Linked DNA regions of Homo sapiens: region 1 is linked to region 2. The links come from fine-mapping of genetic effects on gene expression. Tissue or cell type: whole blood. Region 2 holds a variant in brackets; the other region holds the start of a gene. All regions are shown on one strand. Distances are between the middles of the regions.

What was found. PIP is the estimated chance that this variant, and not a neighbour inherited with it, causes the effect.
Region 1: CHST2 starts here. The variant in region 2 is fine-mapped to the expression of CHST2 in whole blood (TOPMed, PIP 0.94).

The regions. Positions count from the first base shown.
Region 1 is chr3:143,113,835-143,124,460 of GRCh38, forward strand. It overlaps CHST2 (carbohydrate sulfotransferase 2), which reads left to right and starts at 5,937. Exons shown (of 2, transcript NM_004267.5): 1 at 5,937-6,707; 2 at 6,810-10,180. The coding sequence starts at 6,983. The coding sequence ends at 8,575. RefSeq lists enhancers at 4,993-5,494, 5,170-5,299, 5,495-5,994, 6,280-6,329, 6,653-7,294 and 2 more and silencers at 5,760-6,049, 6,540-6,589, 6,620-6,669, 6,720-6,799, 6,860-7,059 and 1 more.
Region 2 is chr3:143,169,383-143,180,008 of GRCh38, forward strand. It overlaps the pseudogene PBX2P1. Among named protein-coding and RNA genes, the nearest start is that of CHST2, 55 kb to the left of the region's middle. RefSeq lists an enhancer at 1,795-1,934. The variant C/T (reference allele first, on the strand shown) is at 5,346.

The DNA.
Region 1 (10,626 bases), 56 kb before region 2:
CCCAAAGTGCTGAGATTACAGGCATGAGCCACTGCACCCAGCCAGAAATTTTTGATTGTAAATAACAGAAATGGACGGTGAGTAACATAAGCAGGAGGCGAAAGGGATTTGGGGAAGCATTTGGGGTAGCTCACAGACTTTAAACAAAGAACAAACAATAGTCTTAAAAAGGGTAGGGTCCCTTCTGAGAGATAATGAGCCATTGCTTTAGGGCTCTGCTGTTGGCCCGAGAGGGCAGCAACCATTTTCCTTCTTATGAATCTCTCTGCTAAAGATTCAGATTGCTTGGCACATGGTGGGAACTCAATACATATAGGATGACCGAATGAGTGACTGAGTGAATGAATGAATGCAACTTTCATGGAGAGAACATCTAATTGGTTGAGCTTGGGTCATGTACCTGCCCCTTGGGAGGAGGGGAGGAGTACTTTGGCTGAAGGTCCCACCAAATCCACGTACAATGGGGTGCATTGGTTCAGATACTGTTACCACAGAAAAGAATGGATGTGGGTCAGGCAGAACCCAATAGGATGCCTACCACAGGGAACAGAGCAATGGCTGGCAGACTAGAGAAGTCAGTGGTTATAGGTGTGGTGGCGGAGCATCTCCTGGTCCAGCTAGCTAGCTCCTGTCCTCTAATATCTGGAAGGAAAAAACTGCAAGAAGAAGCCACAGGCTTTGTTACCAATCTTCCAGGCTGGGGTGAGACCCGGGAAGTAGACAGCTGGGCTAGGTCTCAAAGGTGAAGATGCAGAAAGGCTGAGGAACTCCAAGTGGAGTCTGGGGAAGAGAGAGGGGTGCTCAAAGACAACACCAGAGTGACACATTTAGAAATTAGCTACATATGTTCTTAGAGAAGCAAACCTGTGTGCGCTTCTCCCATAACATCCATTTTGTGCTTCTTCTTTTTCTTATTTCCCCTTCCTGCCCCCTGCCACCACCTCCTCCTTTTTTCTGAGACAGGGTCTTGCTGTATCACTCAGGCTGGAATGCACTGGCACCTACATGGCTCACTTCAGCCTTGAACTCATGGGCTGAATGAAGTGAGCCTCCCACCTCAGCCTTCGAGTACCTAGGACTACAAGCCTGTGCCACTATGCCCAGCTAATTTTTAATATTTTTTGTAGATATGGGGGTAAGGGGTAGTGGGAGGGTTTTGGGGGGCGGGTCTCTCTATGTTGCCCAGGCTGGTCTCAAACTCCTGGGCTCAATTGATCCTCCTACCTTGGTCTCCCGAAGTGCTGGGATTATAGGAGTGGGCCACTGTGCCCAATCTGTGCTTCTTAACAAATTGATTTTTAAAGTCTATGTTAAGGAAACCCCTTCAGGTTTTGTAAACCAGGCACACCCCAATCAGGTAGACAGCATAATCGCATTCACTGGGCTAGACCTCATCCCCACTCAGGGCTTCTGCACTTGCAGTATCGTCTGCATGCAACTCTCATCCCTCAGTTTTCATCTGGCTGCATCCTCATTCTTTGCAAGGGTCACCTCCCCTTTGCAAACCTTACTTTCCCAATTTAAAAATAGCTGTTTCCAGTCACTCTCCATCACATTAATATTTTATTTCTTCTATAGTACTTACCATTCTCAAAAATAATCTTATTTGTTTAAATGTGTGTGCACTGAGTATCTCCCACTCTAGAGTGTAAACTTCATGAAGGTAGGGTCTAGGCCTGTCTGCTTCACTTTTGCATCTCACATAGCTAGACCAGCACCTGGTACATTATAGGTGCTTACTAAATATTTATTGTCATCCTTATATTTCTGGGATAAACCCAAATTGGTTCTAGTTTATTGTCCTTTTTTCCCCACTTGAGTGGATTTGTTTTGCTTATATTTTATTTAAGAGTTTTATGTATAAATTAATCAGAGACAGTACCAAATTTCTTCTCTGAAATCCCTCTGTAGTTATTATCCCCTTTGAATGAGTTGGGGGAAATATTCCCTCTTGTTCTCTTCTCTGATAGAGATAAGACTGAAACAATCTAGTTCTTGAAAGTTTGGTGGAACCCTCCTTTAAATCCCTCTGGTAATAGTGTTGTTTCAATTTGTAAGTACTGTTTTTCTTCTTTTTCTTTCTTTTCCTTCCTTTTCTTTTTTTTTGAGACAGAGTCTCATTCTGTTGCCCAGGCTGGAGTGCAGTGGCGCGATCTTGGCTCACTGCAACCTCTGCCTCCCGGGTTCAAGCAATTCTCCTGCCTCAGCCTCCCGAGTAGCTGGGACTACAGGTGCGCACCACCAAACCAGGCTAATTTTTGTATTTTTAGCAGAGACGGGGTTTCAGCCTGGTCTCAAACTCCTGACCTCGGGTGATCTGCCCAACTCGGCCTCCCAAAGTGCTGGGATTACAGGTGTGAGCCACCGTGCCCAACCTCTTTTTCTTTTTTTTTTTTTTGAGACTGGGTCTCACTCTGTTGCCCAGGTTGGAGTGCAGTGGCACCATTATGGCTCACTGCAGCCTTGACCTCCTGGGGTCAGGTAATTCTCCCATCTCAGTCTCCCGAGTTGCTGGGACTACAGGCATGCACTGCCACACTTGGCTAATTTTTTTGTAGTTTTTGTAGAGATGGGGTTTTGCCATGTTGCCCAGGTTGGTCTCAAGCTCCTAGGCTCAAGTGATATGCCCACCTCAGCCTCCCAAAGTGTTGGGATTACAGGCATGAGCCACCGTGCCCGGCCATAAGTAGTCTTGTATCTTTTTGAGATTGTTAAAGCAAGTTGTTTTTCCTTCCTGTTAGAACTTTATCATTTCATCTCAGTTTCTAAACTAAGTAGAGCGGTTACTCTTGGAGGTTTTTGGGCTGTGTAATGGGTTCATGCATATTCATTATATTAAAACATAGGACATTTAAAAGGGCCACTTGGACTAACAATGGCAGCATATCTTAAATCAAGGATTATGAGTAACCTGAATCTATAATCTCAAGTTCTATTGAAAATGCATATTTGTTCAAAATATGAGGGAGTGAATCTATCTTGGTGCCCAGGGGCAAACATTTTCCAAAGGTGAATCTTCTAGGATTCACACAGATAGGCCCAAATGGGAACTGTTCAGGTAACCCAGCCTTGCATCTTTCCCCAGTTCAGACTCTGGAAGAAAGTCCTTGAAGATCTCTGGACATTTGTCCAGGATTAAGCAAAAGCCACAGCAAGTTTCTTTCACTCGCATCAGTGTGAAGAGACCACCAAACAGGCTTTGTGTGAGCAATAAAGCTTTTTAATCACCTGGGTGCAGGCGGGCTGAGTCCGAAAAGAGAGTCAGTGAAGGGAGATAGGCGTGGGGCCGTTTTATAGGATTTGGGCAGGTAAAGGAAAATTACAGTCAAAGGGGGTTGTTCTCTGGTGGGCAGGTGTGGAGGGGGGGATCACAAGGTGCTCAGTGGGGGAGCTTTTTGAGCCAGGATGAGCCAGGAGAAGGAATTTCACAAGGTAATGTCATCAGTTAAGGCAGGACCTGCCATTTTCACTTCTTTTGTAGTGGAATGTCATCAGTTAAGGCAAGGACCAGCCATCTGGATGTGTACATGCAGGTCACAGGGGATATGATGGCTTAGCTTTGGCTCAGAGGCCTGACAGTTTCCAATAGAACATAACAGGCAGCAGAGAAGACAGAGACTGAAAGAGCATCCTGGGGGAGATGGAATTGTGACAAACTAAACCAGTGAGCCGAAATTAAGGCTAGCCCTGTGGCATGACTGGCTCTTGTGCAAGTGACATTATTATGTGACATATTATATGTCTGGGTCATTACTATGCTAAAATAAGTAGATTAAAATGAAAGGAATTTCCAAACAAATGCGGGAAGGAAGGCATTATGAAGTTTTCAGATGTCATTAGCTATAACAAAGTTCAGAATTAATCATGACACCATGCAAAATGGGAAAAATTTGCAAGCAAGGAGAGGGTGGAGATGCCAGAACCCGTAAATTTATGCCAGCTGAGCACTGTGGGGGCACCTGGCAAATGGATTTACTATTTTGCCAACACCAGTAAAGTGTTACAAAATTGCAAACGGAATTATTTCTATGCAAACAATTGTTTTTAAAAAGGGTCCCTACATCGACTAATGCAATTCAGTTTTTTTCTGGGTAAGCACAAAGCCAGAAACTAAATGAAAAATATTAGAAATTATTTTTCTTGGAATCATGTTGAATATTAAAATTGAGATTTACTTTCCTCCCCAATTCCCTCTCTCTCCCATCAGTCTTTTCATGCACCAATGTCATTTTAGTTTTCGTGGTAAAAGAGGTGGTGAAAAAGGGGCAGGGGCATTTGAGAGAGTAGGCGAAGGGAGGCTGGGGATTCCAGAAAAGGAAAAGATGGGGAGTCGCTCAATTAAACTCTACCACCTTCATCTGTTAACAGGGATTCTTGCCTGTCTCGACCCACTTCCAGAGGCAATGCCATATTATTTGAGAAAGCTGGATATAAAATTTGAGCTCTGCTGTCCTTGTCCCAATCCCCCTCCCCAGGAGAAAAAATAAGCTGAACTGTACTCGTGACATTATGGGTTTTTCTGGAAAACAAGGATAAATAAGTTTTTTGAACATTTTTCTCCCCTGAAACTAAATCCGTAAGAGAGTTAAAAACCCGTGGAAAGCGAGTTAAGTCACTTTTCAAGTCTTTGTACTCAGGGGATTCTGTAAGACTCATGGAAGAATAATGGCGCAAACAGCAATATTTTAATGTTAGAACGGTCCTCTGAAAAGTCTGCCCGAAACGCTACAAAGATAATTGTGCAGTAACTTCTAAAAACTCTACTGGGACAGGAGGCAACAAAACTCCGGATCAGCGAGAGCTCTGTTTATCCGAGGGTGCTGAGCCTCAGGCCCCACGGAGATTCCCTTTTCGGCACTTGGAGGCCTGAACTCAGGTCTAACCTTTCGTGTGCGCGCTCTGATACTCAACCACCGTTCAGTCTCCGGAGGCTGTTACAACTGTCCCCATTCTACAGATGAAGTTGAGGCTACAGCTTAGTGTTCTTGGGGAGGGAGGGAGTTGGGGGGAGAGAGAGACGCTTTTCCTCATAACCTTAAACAAAAGTACTTAAACCTAAAGCAACTGAAAAATGATTTTCTTTCAACAACGGTGTTTCCTTTGGGGTCAAGTTCTTTGATCTCATCTACAAAACCAAGAAGCGGGACAAGTATTTTTCTGCAAATTAGAACGGGGCGTTCCCCTCCCCCATCACCCCAATTCCAGAGGACGTCAATCACAGTGGACGCAGCACCGCGAGCGGAAATGCGGAGAGCATCGGGGCTCCGCATGTGGGGCACAATGAAACAAGAGCAGCCCCGGCCAGAGGTCCAGTAAAGCGGAAAGACGGTCCCGCCCGCACACCCCTCCGGAAAACTGAAGCGTCTCCTCTGACCCCCAAGGTCAGAAAGATTTATTACTTCCTTCGAGAGGGCGCAGCCACAGACCCACTAGAGAGGGCGGGCAGGGTGTCGGAAGCCAGAGAACGGCGCTCCGCGTCCTCCCACCGCTCCAGGGCGCAGAGGTGTCCTCAGTGCCCGGAGAGGTTGGCAGTGTCGGCCCCGAGGGAAGCGTGGAGCGGACGGCCGACAGGGGATTTCTGCCCAAACTTCATCACCAACTCTTTCTGAGAGCAAAAACATGGGGCCGAGTCCGGCAGCTGCACGCAGAATCCAACTCTCTGGCAGCTCTCGGCACCGACGAGCTCCAGATCCCGCGTTCGCATCCCGGCGCTTTGCGCGCAGAGCTAAGCCTTCGGACCCGTGGACTGCAGCCCCCGCGCGTCGCGGTAAAGCGGGTCGCGTCTCCAGCCCCCGAGGCGCAGCGACGGTGGGAGCCGGCTCGGCGTTGGGGGCGGGGGCGGGGCCGGCGAAGGGGGAGGGCTGCGCGGCGGAGGGGAGGAGCCGCGGCGACAGACGGCGGCGCGCACCAACCGGGCGCCGGCTGGCAGGAGCCGCGCAGAGGCTGGTCCGAGCGCGTTGCGGGCGCCCGGCGTAAGGGGAGTCGGGTAGCAGCATCCTCCTGGGCGCCGCTTTCGCGCGGCGGCGGCGGCTGCGGCGGGGTCTTTCTTTGCTTAAATACCTCGTTGGCCAGAAGCGCTGGTACCGGGGGCGGGTTGGGTCGGGTCGGGCAGTGCTGCACACCTGGGTTTCCTTGCCTAGAGCTGTGTGTTCGGGGTCCTTTGGTCCAGTCGGAGGCTGCGGAGCGGCGGGGGTTGCCTGCGCTGTCCGCCCGGGCATCCTCCCGGTGATGGAAGCAGCCGCCGCCGCCGCTGCGGGGTCGCGCTGTGCCCCATCCACCGCTGCCAGAGAGGTGGGAAAATTCGCCGCACGGAGGCCGAAAGCGAGAGGGGCTGCGCCGCTATGCCGGGAGCTGAGTCCCATATAAGCCGCCCCCAGCCATCGCCCCCAGCCGGCTTCGTTCCCCTGAGCGAGACAGGAAGCTGCGGTCCCGAGAAAGCGGAGGAGACGTCGCTGGAGCCGGGAGGCGCCGGGTTCGGCGGAGCGCGGAGCGGGGCTCTGGGCCGCGTGAAAGTTTTTCTTCCCGAGCCGCAGGGCGCCCGCTGCCCGGAAACTGCCCAGGGATAAGTCGGCCGACTCCCCAGACCCCTCGAAGGTGCGGGGACCCCCAGCGGAAGCGAGAGGGAGCGAAATCGAGGAACGAGTGACAGCCGGACAGTCCGCCGGGCGGTGATCCGGGGCCGCTCCCGGGCGCGCCCTCGGCTCCAGGTGAGCGGAGGAACCGGGCAGAACCGAGGGTGGGCGTTACTTAGGAGGAGGAGGCTGGGAGGGAGATTGGGGCGCATCCGCTCACTCCGCTTCCCCTCGCAGGTCCTACCCGGAGCCGCTGCCATGGGAGAGCCAGCCTTGGGCGCTGGGGACCAGCCGCCGCGCCCGCCTCGGAGTCGCGGCCCGAGTCCCGGCGCCAGCAGCCAGCCCGCTGCGTCCCCTTCCCGGGCTGCAGGGCTGCCTCCGCCGCGCCGCCGGCCCGGATTGTGCCTGTGATGAGCCGCAGCCCGCAGCGAGCTCTGCCCCCGGGCGCGCTCCCTCGGCTGCTCCAGGCTGCGCCTGCAGCCGCGCCGCGTGCCCTGCTCCCGCAGTGGCCCCGGCGCCCAGGACGCCGCTGGCCCGCGTCCCCTCTCGGAATGAAGGTGTTCCGTAGGAAGGCGCTGGTGTTGTGCGCGGGCTATGCACTGCTGCTGGTGCTCACTATGCTCAACCTCCTGGACTACAAGTGGCACAAGGAGCCGCTGCAGCAGTGCAACCCCGATGGGCCGCTGGGTGCCGCAGCGGGGGCAGCCGGAGGCAGCTGGGGGCGCCCAGGGCCGCCTCCGGCCGGGCCGCCCCGTGCTCATGCCCGTTTGGACCTCCGCACTCCTTACCGCCCTCCCGCTGCCGCCGTCGGGGCGGCTCCTGCAGCCGCGGCAGGGATGGCGGGGGTTGCGGCCCCTCCAGGCAATGGCACTCGGGGCACCGGGGGCGTCGGGGACAAGCGGCAGCTGGTGTACGTGTTCACCACGTGGCGCTCTGGCTCGTCGTTCTTCGGCGAGCTATTCAACCAGAATCCCGAGGTGTTCTTTCTCTACGAGCCAGTGTGGCATGTATGGCAAAAACTGTATCCGGGGGACGCCGTTTCCCTGCAGGGGGCAGCGCGGGACATGCTGAGCGCTCTTTACCGCTGCGACCTCTCTGTCTTCCAGTTGTATAGCCCCGCGGGCAGCGGGGGGCGCAACCTCACCACGCTGGGCATCTTCGGCGCAGCCACCAACAAGGTGGTGTGCTCGTCACCACTCTGCCCCGCCTACCGCAAGGAGGTCGTGGGGTTGGTGGACGACCGCGTGTGCAAGAAGTGCCCGCCACAGCGCCTGGCGCGTTTCGAGGAGGAGTGCCGCAAGTACCGCACACTAGTCATAAAGGGTGTGCGCGTCTTCGACGTGGCGGTCTTGGCGCCACTGCTGCGAGACCCGGCCCTGGACCTCAAGGTCATCCACTTGGTGCGTGATCCCCGCGCGGTGGCGAGTTCACGGATCCGCTCGCGCCACGGCCTCATCCGTGAGAGCCTACAGGTGGTGCGCAGCCGAGACCCGCGAGCTCACCGCATGCCCTTCTTGGAGGCCGCGGGCCACAAGCTTGGCGCCAAGAAGGAGGGCGTGGGCGGCCCCGCAGACTACCACGCTCTGGGCGCTATGGAGGTCATCTGCAATAGTATGGCTAAGACGCTGCAGACAGCCCTGCAGCCCCCTGACTGGCTGCAGGGCCACTACCTGGTGGTGCGGTACGAGGACCTGGTGGGAGACCCCGTCAAGACACTACGGAGAGTGTACGATTTTGTGGGACTGTTGGTGAGCCCCGAAATGGAGCAGTTTGCCCTGAACATGACCAGTGGCTCGGGCTCCTCCTCCAAGCCTTTCGTGGTATCTGCACGCAATGCCACGCAGGCCGCCAATGCCTGGCGGACCGCCCTCACCTTCCAGCAGATCAAACAGGTGGAGGAGTTTTGCTACCAGCCCATGGCCGTCCTGGGCTATGAGCGGGTCAACAGCCCTGAGGAGGTCAAAGACCTCAGCAAGACCCTGCTTCGGAAGCCCCGTCTCTAAAAGGGGTTCCCAGGAGACCTGATTCCCTGTGGTGATACCTATAAAGAGGATCGTAGTGTGTTTAAATAAACACAGTCCAGACTCAAACGGAGGAAGCCCACATATTCTATTATAGATATATAAATAATCACACACACACTTGCTGTCAATGTTTTGAGTCAGTGCATTTCAAGGAACAGCCACAAAATACACACCCCTAAGAAAAGGCAAGACTTGAACGTTCTGACCAGGTGCCCCTCTTCTTCTTTGCCTTCTCTTGTCCTCTTTCTCCTATTTCTTACCCTGTCCTCCACCTGCCTTCCATTTTGAAGTGGGATGTTAATGAAATCAAGTTCCAGTAACCCAAATCTTGTTTACAAAATATTCGTGGTATCTGTGAACATGTTAAGAGTAATTTGGATGTGGGGGTGGGGGTGGAGAAAGGGGAAGTGGTCCAGAAACAAAAAGCCCCATTGGGCATGATAAGCCGAGGAGGCATTCTTCTAAAGCAGACTTTTGTGTAAAAAGCAAAGGTTACATGTGAGTATTAATAAAGAAGATAATAAATAATATTCTTTTTAATATTTGCCTCCATTACTTTGGATTCACCTGTGTTACTTGTCCTCAGCTTCAGATAGAATCTCCTTCCCCTCCCTCGTTTCCATTTTTCCAGTCTCTTTCCTGAAAGGCAGCTAAACTGGGTGGGAGCAATTTTTGCCTCCTTGGTAATAACCTGGGGGATGTTTTCTCACATGTAAATCTCAGCCTGTTAGGTGTCCAGGAGTGAAACACATCTTTGTATTCTAAAGGCAGAAACCAAACAGGGCAGTGGAAGAAAAAGCACACTACTCTCTTCAACTTTGAACACAGGAAGAAGCAACTCCTTCAGGACTTGAAGGCATTTGGTTTTTCATTCCTCTTCAGTTAAAATGGGGAACCTTGAAGCAGAGACCAATGTTTTGGTGCTGAGGCTGGTTCAGAAAAAGGATTTTTAAAAAAAGTATGTAATTTTTAAAAGTTCTGATGATTAGAACACAGACCTCAGGAAAGTAGCGTGAACATACTGCTGGCGATGGTAGCAGCTTCGTTGGTTTAGCAAAGTGACAGAAGTATCTATTTGGAGTGTTTTTCTGACCCTGACACGGTATGTGGAGGTGGATGAAAGCAGCGAAGTTTCATCTGAGAACCGTAAGGGTTTTCCCTTTTCTTACTTGCTTCCCATTTAAATCAGTGCAAGAGAGAATATGAATTTATAATGCTTTACTTGGGATGCCTGTGGAATATGTTGCTTTTCTTTATCATGTTTCCTAAAAGTAAATTTGCAAAGAAAGTAACATGCTGCAGACAGTATAAGGCTTCAGCCAAGAGCTTCTTTTAGATATGATAATGAATTGTGGTAAAGAGGAAATGAAAATGAACTAGTGTGTAGGATTTTGAAATTTGGTATTTTCCAGGGAGAAAACCGTTACATTTTCCTGTAGTGGTTATGATGTTGTGTCCTGAACCCATTTGGTACTGAAACATTCTGCAGAATGTTATACTATGAGAAGAAATTGTGAAGCCCAAATGGGAACAAGAGACAGTGTAGTTGTATATGACAGTAAATACAGTACAAGTTCACTATCATCATGGTTTTATTTCACTGTGATTTTTTATGAGATCTCTGAAAGCCAACATGCATAGGTTAAATGCTGAGAATTTTATTTTAGGGAAAAGATGATAAAAATAATCTGTACGTGGGGAATATTTTAACACACAATGATTCTTAAGTATAATTACCATTGCAATACAAAATCTAGCTACGCTGGTAAGAATTCCAAGGTAAAGAAGCATAAAGGTTTAAAAAGGGGTATATTTAGAAATGGATTTTATAACACAATCTAGAATGCTTATTTCTTAATTTACTAAAATAGTTTTTAGTATTGTGTTTCTGAAGCCAGATTACATCTATAATACATTGATCATGTTTTCCATATTTTTGTGGTAGTGCCTATGCTGAATTAGCTTCACCAGCAGTAGAATATTTGTAATAGATTTAATTTAAGAATACTTTAAAGTTAAATGAACAAAAT
Region 2 (10,626 bases):
GGAGTGGATGGAAGCCCCTGTCCCTAGAAATGTCCCTTATTCTCTCATTTGACACCTCTCTCACTGCATTAGCAGAGACGTTTTGCTTTTAGGAAGTTTTCATTTGAAATATAAATATTTCCATGTGTATTGAAATAGTCACAGAGGCTGTATCAGTCAGTGACTTTGTGGGGTTGTTTGATGGGATCTAGTCTCTACCCCTGCTCAGAAACATTGCTGGCTCCCCGGTATCTATGTAATCCACTCTGCACCATGTAGCCTGGCAGGCAGGGCCTTCTGGGAACTGGCCCCACTGTCTTCTCACTGGTCTCCTCCTAATTTCTCCATGCTGCCCCAGACGTCAATGTATCCAGCTCTTCTGGAGTCCATGTGCTCTCTGGAACATGCAGCTCACTCTCCCCATCTATTACCATCATGCCTTTCTCCCCAGTGCCACCTTAGAAGAGTCTACTCACTGGGCTGGGTTCTGAGGCCATCTCCTACCATCTTCTGAGGCTATCTTCCTTGAGCCTCCCAACTGATTTTTTTCCTCCCTTAATATCCTTAATGCAGAAACCAGCCCCTGTCTTGATAAGATGACATTACATATCAGGAGTTGGAAAAAGAGAGGTGGAATTTAGCAATACGACAGCTCAGGAAGGTTTTACTGGACAAACTCTGGGACTTCTTTCAAATATATGTTATCAACAACCCCTTCACCTATTTTTTATTTTTAGGTCTAACGTTCACCTTTCCCTCTCATATTGAATCTCATGAGATCTTCCCTGAGAGTTGTGAGGGCCTCCCTGCTGCTGACCCACGAGGTCCTCCCTCACAAGTCTCGTGTGTTCAGGAACTGGCTGATGAACGCTTGCCTCCTTCTTCCTGCCCCGCAGACCTTCATAAACCACAAGGCTTTTTAAAAAAATTCTGATGCCTGTAGGTTTAAGCTTTACACCATCCTATAGCTTTGTCTGTGTACAATTCTAGCATACTGCCAGCCTTAGAATTTTCGGTCAGGTCCCCCTATAGATTGTATACTTCTTGGCAGTTCCTTCCCTTGTTCATTGGGTTCACAGATTCTACTCCATGCAGAGTACTTTGTGCTTTGTAGGTGCTTAATAAACGTGGTGAGTGACAACCCATGATATCTGAACTTACTGAGAAAACATTCCAGAGGGAGGTAAATGAGGATGAAAGGAGGCTGTTGGCAGAGGTGAGGAACTAGGGGCTCTGCAGACCAGCTTCCATGATGCCGCCATGTGGCCTGAGATTGGCCTGGAATCAGCTGCACTATCCCTCTTCACATAAGGCTACAGACTTTGGGGAAAGAGAATCCTTCTCCCTGCTTTACCTCTATACAAGTTCAGGCAGCTGTGTATGTGTGTGTGTATGTGTGTGTGTGTGTAATATTGGAACAGGCAGCACAGATGAGGGCTTGGCAGTGAGAGAAACTGTAGCTTTGACCTCTTACTACAAAGTGTGATGAAGAAGGCTTGAATTTTCAAAGAATTCAACTGTGTCTAATACCAGGTCTGTGGTATAACGTTCTTCCTTGGCTGGGTGCCAAAATGTAACATAAATGCTACACCCAGAGCAAAGGGGTAAAAGAGACCCACTAGTGTTTCCAGGGTTAAATTCTCCCTCCTTCACAGAGCCTTCCAGATTCACACAGTCCACTCAAGTCTCTCCTTTGTAGAAGATCCTACAGCATTTAATACTGGATGCTGCTCAGTTTAGCCCTCAATGATAGTGTCTTGCTATTTTTGGTTAGTTTCTTTAAAAATATAACTTCTGTCTTCCATTTACTTAAATCTCTTCCACGGCTTCTTTGCTTCTTGTTACATGAAGCAGTGCTGAACACAGAGGAGGAACTCAGTAACTGTTAATTGTTTTGCTCTCTAATTAGGCCCACGATAGAGTAGATACTATTGGGTGCTGGTTTTTAGGGGTGTAGGAAAGGAATCTGGGGAGTCATCTTCAAAGATCAGATGCACAAATCTTAACAAGCTGCCTCTCTCTAGTGGCCTCAGGGACTTGAAGCAAGATCAACTGACTTAAAGAAATAAACCACAAGTAGTTAAGAAACACAAAAGTTCAAATTGCATCCGGTGTAGCTCTGTGAGAAAATTTCTGCAGCAGAAGGAAGTCTGTTATTCTTGACCTGAACTTTAGTATTCTGCAGTAATGTGGGGCTGCAAAAATGCTCCTAATCTCTGACAAAGTTAGGTTCTTATCCATATATCATAAGTGAAATGAGAGGAATTGACTGATAACAGAGAAAAAATTTCCCACTTGGCACATACAGACAGTGTATGTATATGTGTATATATACATAGATACTTAAATCAAAGTAATTGGTTAATGTAATGGAAATTTAATCTCAGTTTTAAGTGGTGTTTCTTCTTTATTTGATGTGCATTATTTTAAAAACACAGCAGAGACATAGCCTTTAACCACCTCCCCCATGCCTCTGACATTATTCATACTGAAGTTTTCAAGTAGCAGACTTGGAAAGTGCTTTTTAACTACAGCTCATATCATTAGTGTTTCTGCTGTATAAGCAGAAAAAATTGGGATGCAGCTTAGCAAAAGGCTTCAGGACAACATAAAATACAAAGGGTAATAGATCTGTTTCTCAAACAGTTTTCCTGTGTAATGCGCATCCTAATGATTTCTTTTTAATTAAAATATTTTCACAAGTCTCAGAATGAGTAACCTAAGACTATTTTGTTGGGATAATCTGTATTTCCTGAGATGTGTTAACTTCAGGGTCACTGGTCTTTATTCAGTTCTTGCTCTGCCAGGCCACAGGCTGCCTCATTCTCTCCTTTGCCCTCACAGCTTGGTATCAGCTCCTAATTTTGCATCTGGGCTCTAAACTGGACTTTCCAGCTCCCTGATGGACATTTCAGAAATGTTCTATTGATGTTTCTAACGCAACAAGCCTCATGATATTATCCTTGTGTTAACATCATTGTGACATCCTCCACACACCCAAGTCAACTTGGACTTATTTTTCTGTCTCCTACAAGCAATGGCTGCTAAGTCCTGTTGATTCTGGCTTTGAAATGTCTAGAGAATACCCTCTCATGTAGTCACTTCTATTTTTGTTGCCCTAGTTCAGGCCGTACTCTCTCTTGCTTGCCTGGACCATGACAAGTAGCTGTCTAGTTGGTCTCATGGGCTGCTATCGATTTCCTCTCAAGAGTACCCTTGAAGTTGCCCCAGAGTGCTCTTCCTAAAGAATGACTTGGTGATGTCCCTTTCCTACTGAAAAAACTTGTGGTAAGTCCCAACTGCCTACTGAATCTGTTTCCAACTTTACTCTTCAGCCTCATTTTCTGCAACTCCCTGTCATCTCCCCATGCTGAACCCCAAGAGACAACTCACGATTGCTCGATGAGATGTCCAATTTCATTCCTTTGTGCTGTTGCTTGGGTTGTTTAATGCCTAGAAACTTTAGCAAGACAACATGCAAATATTCTGCAGCTTCTCTGTGCCCCCTCACACCTGCCTGCTCCAAGCGTCATTCTTCCTTTGCAGTTAAAAAAAAATCCGTTTTGGCAGGCTTTATGCAGAATTTGTTTACATTTCTATCTCTCTTACACATGAAACTTGAACTGCTAGACAACAGAGATAATGCAATTTATATCTTTGTTTCTTTAAAGACTCAAGTTGGTGATAGATGCTTATTAAGTGCCCAGTGAATTCTTGTTGAATAAATGAATTGTTGCCTTCTTTGTGAATCTTTATCCAGTTCTCTGAAGCAAACATTATTTTGTATTTATCTTTAAGTTTTTTCTCTTTGTATTTGGTTTCCAGCAGATTTCCATGATGTGTGTTGGCACGTTTTTCTTTCTGTTTATCTTCATGGGGATTGAAGGGCTTCTTGAATCTGTGGCTTGACGTTTTTTTGTCAGCTTTGAAAAATTCTTGGTCATTATCACATATTGCTTTGCCTCCTGTCTTTCCCTCCTCTTTTGGACTCTAATTCCATATATGTTAAATTTTTCTACTAGGTGCCATAGGTCTCCTATATTTTTTTCTATCTTTTTTCTCTGTGCTTCATTCTGAGTAATTTCCATTGTTTTATCTTCCAAATTGCTAGTCCCTTTTCCAGCTGTGTCTAATCTTCTGTTAAGTCTATTTATTGAGTTCTTAGTTTGTAATATCAGTTTAGATTTTTCATTTGATTTCTTTTTTGTAGATTCTAATTTTCTGGTTACTTTTTTTCAATCTTATCTATTTTTATCAGCTTATCAATCATAGGATTTTAAGGTATTTATATAACTCCTTGGATTTCTAGAGAGTCTATTTCTATAATCTTTTAAAAAATTTCTTGGTCATATCTCTTGATATGTTTGTTAACATTTTATCGAATGCCAAATATATATATAAAATAGCAGAGATTATGAATGATACTTTCTTTTTCCAGGGAAAACTTAAAAACTATTCCAGCACTGTAACACTGCTGATAGTCCTGCCCAGTTTCTTATAGTCTCAGAAGCCACTATATGCCTCTCTATAGGTGCTTCTTATCAATCAGTAAATGCCTCAAGGGGAAAAATGTTTGCCCACATGGTTGGGCTCATTTCTTTCTGCTTCCTTTCTCTCCTGGATCTTGACCCTTTAAGTTCTGATTGTCTTGCTGGCCCTGGACTCCTAGCCCTGTTAGGTGGTGAAAGTTCTGTTCTGCTTTTTTTTTTTTTTTTTTTTTTGCTTCTTAGCAGCTGCTTTCTACTTGGCTTCTCAGTCCTTCCACACATGCTGCATATGAATCAGAAAATGCTCTGAAGAGAAAAGTAGTGATTTGGGCTCACCTCAGTGAGTTTCTCTTCACTCTGGACTCCTGGCCCTGAAAATCCTGGCTTCCTTGAGTTTCCAATGTCTTCAAAACAGGTTGTTTTTGTTTTTGTTTGTTTGTTTTCCATTTTATCACACCTTTGTGGTTTGTTCACTGGGATGTTTGCACTGCCATAAAGTAGTTTGCCATGGCTAGATGTGGGAGTCTGTGTGTTCTTCTATTATGATGCTTTCTTCTACTATAAATTTCTTTCATTTGTGAGTTCTGTGAGAACAAGGACAGTAATTTATTTCATTTATCTCTTGTAAAATGCCAACTCATTCATTAATTCACTCAACATAGGTTTTGAGCACCTACTATGTTGCCAAGTAGTTGCCAAGTGCTGAGGACAGAGCAGTGAAGAAGATGGACAAAGTCTCAGCTGTCATAGGGCGCATGTCCCAGCATGGGACAGGGCACACAAACAAACAAATAGCAAGAATATCAAATAGTAAAAGGTGTTGTGTACAGGATTAAATTCAAATGCTGAGGGAGAAGGTGGGTGGCTACTTAAAGCCTT[C/T]TCTAAATGGGTAACCATTACTTTGAGGTCTGAATGACAAGAAAAAGTCAGCCATGAGGAGATCTAGGGAATTTCCAGGCAGAGAGAGGAGCAAAGGTGAGGGACCAGGGAGTTTGCTAAAGTGGATTAAATTTGTGGGATTCTAAATTAAAAATTTTAACATAAGCTTCTTTTTTTAACCTCTGAGACTATATATGTATAGGCAAATATCCTATTTTTGTTTAAAAATGAGAAGAATTAGGATTTACATAAAATTGTTGTATTTTTATCAGAGCTCTGTTATCAGTTAAGGTCTTAGCAAAAACCAATCCAATTCACATAGTTCAAGAGACTGCAAAGAAGAGGCTCCTTAAGGGGTGTGGACAGGATTAAGAGAACGAGCAGGGTTGCTGAGGCACCCAGAGACTAGCAACAGTGGCAGTCATTACCACCCCAGGCCTGAAGGGATGAAGAACATTGCAAAGTGCTTTACTCCAGTCTGGTGGGAGCTGAAGTCAGGGAGAGATGTAGTCGCTACCAGAAAACATGCTGCAGGGCAGGGTGGGAGCAGGAAGGCAACATCTTCTCTTCTTTTTCCTCCTGCCTCACCTTGAGGGGTCGGTCTTGGCCAAACCCAACCAAGAGCCAGCTGGCAGTGGAGCCAGGTTGATGTGGTCCAGTGGAGGCAGTCTCCAAGGCTGCACAGAGAGGGGCAAGAATGGGCCTGGGGAGAGGCACAAACCAACCACACCCTCAGGTGCATTTTTGAGATGACAAGCAAGAATGAATTTGGAAAGTTTATAGGCTTCTTTTGTAGCTTCAGCCTTACTAGGACTTACATGATATAAAGTGCCTTTCCTACGTCGAGAATAGGGGGTCTGAAGGGTTTTCAGTCATACATTATGTCTTTAAGGACAGAAATTTTTTTTGAGGAAACTTGCAATTAGCTTGGGAGACTATGAGGACATAAGAATATGTGGAGTTTTGAAGGAAAGTTTTAGGGCAGAGTCTGGCATTTGTGCTAGTAAGAGGAAGAGACCCAGCGAGAGACTGGGGACAAAGCTTTAAGTCAGAGAGAGGTCAGAGAAGAAGGTGCCTGCAGTGGAACATGAAATCCTCAGTGTAAATTCACCAATACCCAAAAAGAGTCCTTTAAATCTGGCCATACACTGAAAATCTGTCTGCTAACAAAGGGTTCATGATATCCAAGCAAATATGGTATATGACCCAGAAATAGCTATTTTTTCAATTCAGCAATTTAAAATAGCAAAATCTTGAAATTTTATTGCCCAGGATATACAAAAGTACTCATACACACTTGTCTGCATACCCACCAACACAAAATGTCAATGTGGACACACACTCCCGCTTGGGCCTCCTCTCTCTCTCCGGCTCCATTTTCTCCGCCGCCGGGGGCCGGGGTCTCCTGTGGGGGGCCCAGCCGGTATCCCAGGTCTCCCTTCAGTGCCGGGGTGAACCCCCGGGGGAGCCGAGAGCCGGGGGCAGACGGGCGGGGGTTGGGGCGGAGGGAGCAGCGGCCCCAGCGAGTTTGTGGGGAGAAGTAACCAAGCGGGGGGAGGGGCTGAGCAGGGAGGGGGCCTCAGGGCCCCCCCCCAGCTATGGACTAACGGCTACTGGGGCCGCCTCCTCCAGGCGGGGCCCGGGGGGGGCCTGGGATTGGTGAGTGGGGAGCCTGGGGGCCCTGGCGAGCCTCCTGGTGGCGGAGACCCCGGTGGGGGTAGCGGGGGGTTCCCGGGAGGCCGAGGGAAGCAAGACATCGGGGACATTCTGCAGCAGATAATGACCATCACCGACCAGAGCCTGGACGAGGCCCAGGCCAAGAAACACGCCCTAAACTGCCACCGAATGAAGCCTGCTCTCTTTAGCGTCCTGTGTGAAATCAAGGAGAAAACCGGCCTCAGCATTCGGAGCTCCCAGGAGGAGGAGCCGGTGGACCCACAGCTGATGCGCTTGGACAACATGCTTCTGGCAGAGGGTGTGGCTGGGCCCGAGAAAGGGGGCGGCTCAGCAGCAGCAGCTGCAGCCGCTGCAGCCTCTGGTGGTGGCGTGTCCCCTGACAACTCCATCGAACACTCGGACTATCGCAGCAAACTTGCCCAGATCCGTCACATATACCACTCGGAACTGGAGAAGTATGAGCAGGCATGTAATGAGTTCACGACCCATGTCATGAACCTGCTGAGGGAGCAGAGCCGCACCAGGCCCGTGGCCCCCAAAGAGATGGAACGCATGGTGAGCATCATCCATCGAAAGTTCAGCGCCATCCAGATGCAGCTGAAGCAGAGCACCTGCGAGGCTATGATGATGCTGCGCTCCCGTTTCCTGGATGCCAGACGAAAGCGCCGTAACTTCAGCAGACAGGCCACTGAGGTCCTAAATGAGTATTTCTACTCCCACCTGAGTAACCCATATCCTAGTGAGGAGGCCAAGGAGGAGCTTGCCAAGAAGTGTGGCATCACCGTGTCTCAGGTCTCCAACCGGTTTGGCAACAAGAAGATTCGCTATAAGAAAAACATCGGAAAGTTCCAAGAGGAGGCAAACATCTATGCTGTCAAGACAGCCGTGTCAGTCACCCAGGGGGGCCACAGCAGCACCAGCTCCCCGACACCCCCTTCCTCTGCAGGCTCTGGCGGCTCTTTCAATATCTCAGGATCTGGAGACATGTTTCTGGGGATGCCTGGGCTCAACGGAGATTCCTATTCTGCTTCCCAGGTGGCATCACTCCGACGCTCGATGGGGCCAGGGGGCTATGGGGATAACCTCGGGGGAGGCCAGATGTACAGCCCACGGGAAATGAGGGCAAATGGCAGCTGGCAAGAGGCTGTGACCCCCTCTTCAGTGACATCCCCAACGGAGGGACCAGGGAGTGTTCACTCTGATACCTCCAACTGATCTTGCCCCTCAGGGTCACAGGGGTGGGGGCTCTCACAAGGCGACTCTTGAAGAGGACGCAGGCTTCCAGAGGACAAACCCCAATACAGGAGAAGCACAAGACAGAGAAGGGCCAATGGGGTCATCCGCTCCCTAATGAGACTGTCTGTGCTGGGGGTGCTAATTACATGGCAGGAAGAATGGGGCCCCTAAGGGGAGTGTGGGGTCTGTCTCTCCCTTTTTTCCAACTTTTTCCTCTCTCGCTTTCTTTCTTACACAGAAACATGCACATACCCAGAAACCTATTTTCTCAGACCCCTTTTTCTCCTCTGTCTTTCTCTCTCCCTCTCCCACACCTCACACACACATACTCCCACTTGCAACTATTCTGTTTCTCTCCTGGGCTCCCCCACTTTCCCTTCCCCACCCCACTTGTAGGCTCTGGAATCTGGAGACGCCAGCCCTGCCCAATCAGAGATGCCAAAAATGGGGACATGACTTCTGGACAGAGGACATGGGACACGCCCCCATGCATCCCCACCCCTGCCCCTCCAGACAGCTTACTTACCTCATACGCAGCTCATCTTAAACCAATAGAATCGCTTGGTGGACGAGAGTGTCTGACTCAGATATCTACCTCGGAGGGAGTTTCTGCTACTTTAGGGAATTATTGACTGGGCTTTGGGGTTGAACTTTTTTTTTTTTTTTTTTTTAAAGAAAGAAAAAGAAACCCTGGGATCCATCTGTTTTTGTTGTTGTTGTTGTTTTTGTTGTTGTTGTTGTTGGTGGTGGTGGTTCTTAATTTTTAATTTAGTTTGGGGAAGTAGCTTGTTTTTTTTTTTTAAATAAATATGTTGATTTCTTGTCTTTTTTTTATTTCTTACTTTCCCATATTAGGGGTGATAGCCAAAGGGGTTCTGGTAAGAGAAAGGGGGACAAACAGAACTGGTAAAGAGGCCCCCCTGGCTCCAGGCCTGTCCATCAGGAAGTAAATTTTACAGGGCACCAAGCTTTGCCCCCTAAAATCCATTAGGTGTTCTTTGTTCATGCAGGCAGGTTTCTGCCGCATTTGATGTGGAGGCAGTGAAGGGCTTGCCCTGCTGGCCTCTCATCCCCCTTCTTCCCACAACCCTTGGGCAGGGCTGGACTCAGTAATTTTGAGGAAATTGAAGATGCCATCTTCCCCTGTGAGTGACATGTCTTTAATTTTTTAAAAAACTCTATTTGAAAATTGGAGGGGGAAGAATGGGAAGGGAGTTATTGCCAAATATGTTAATTATGGGTTGGGGTGCTTGTATATGTATCTTCCTCAATTTCCGCATAAATGAGGTATCTTTTTGTCACACCAAAATCAAGGGGTAGGGAGAGGGAGGAGGTTGCAAAAAGCCAGATGTGGGGGAAAAGTAACATCAACACTGTCCCATCCTCAGCCCTGAACCCTACCATCTGATCCCCTCAGACATTCTCAGGATTTTACAAGACTGTCAGAGTGGGGAACCCCTCCCATTAAAGATCCGGGCAGGACTGGGGACAGGTTGGAAATGTGATGGGTTGGGGGGTGGGAGGCATGGGCCGGGGGCAGTTCTCTCCTCACTTGTAAACTTGTGTAGTTTCACAGAAAAAAAAAATGCAGTTTTAAATAAAGAAATTTCTTTAAAAAAAAAAAATGTCAATGTGTCCCTAGGCCTGGAGACCATGTGTGATTAGGCTAAGTTATATTTAGTTCCTATCTAATATTTTCCCATAAAATATTCCAAACTGAACAATCTCTCATTTCTACATTTGAATATTGTGTAACTTGCCAGTGAATATTTTTTTTGTTACTTTCTAAATTTCCATTGTTTCTTTTTCACATGAAAAATAGGACAGTTCTTAGATGGGGAAAGGCAACAGGATAAATCTGTGGTTCAAAGGATATAAGCACTATTTTATTACTGAAAACTTGAAATGACTTATTATGTGGCATATTATTCTTCTCAAAAGCCTCGTTAGTATTTACCATTTTAAGAACTTTATACATTTTTAACTCATTAAGTCTCACAGAGACAATGTGAAGCAGGTACTAATGTTATTATTGTCATTATAGGCATGGAAAGCTGAGAGCTGTGGCACAGGGAGGTGAAATAACCAGCACAAAGCCGTACAGTTGACAAGCGAGGAAGCCAGGGTTCAAATCCAGGAAGTCTGGCTCCAGAGTCTGTGGGCTAAACCACTATGCCTAGTGTTCAATGGAGACTTGAGTTTATGATAATCTCGCTGCTGTAGGGTTCAGATTTGCATATTATGAAATGAAATGTTTATAAACGTTCCAACCAACGTTTTCTTTTTTATTTTTTTCTTCTTCAACTTTTATTTTAAACTCAGGGGTACATGTGTAGGATATACAGGTTGTTACATAGGTAAATGTGTG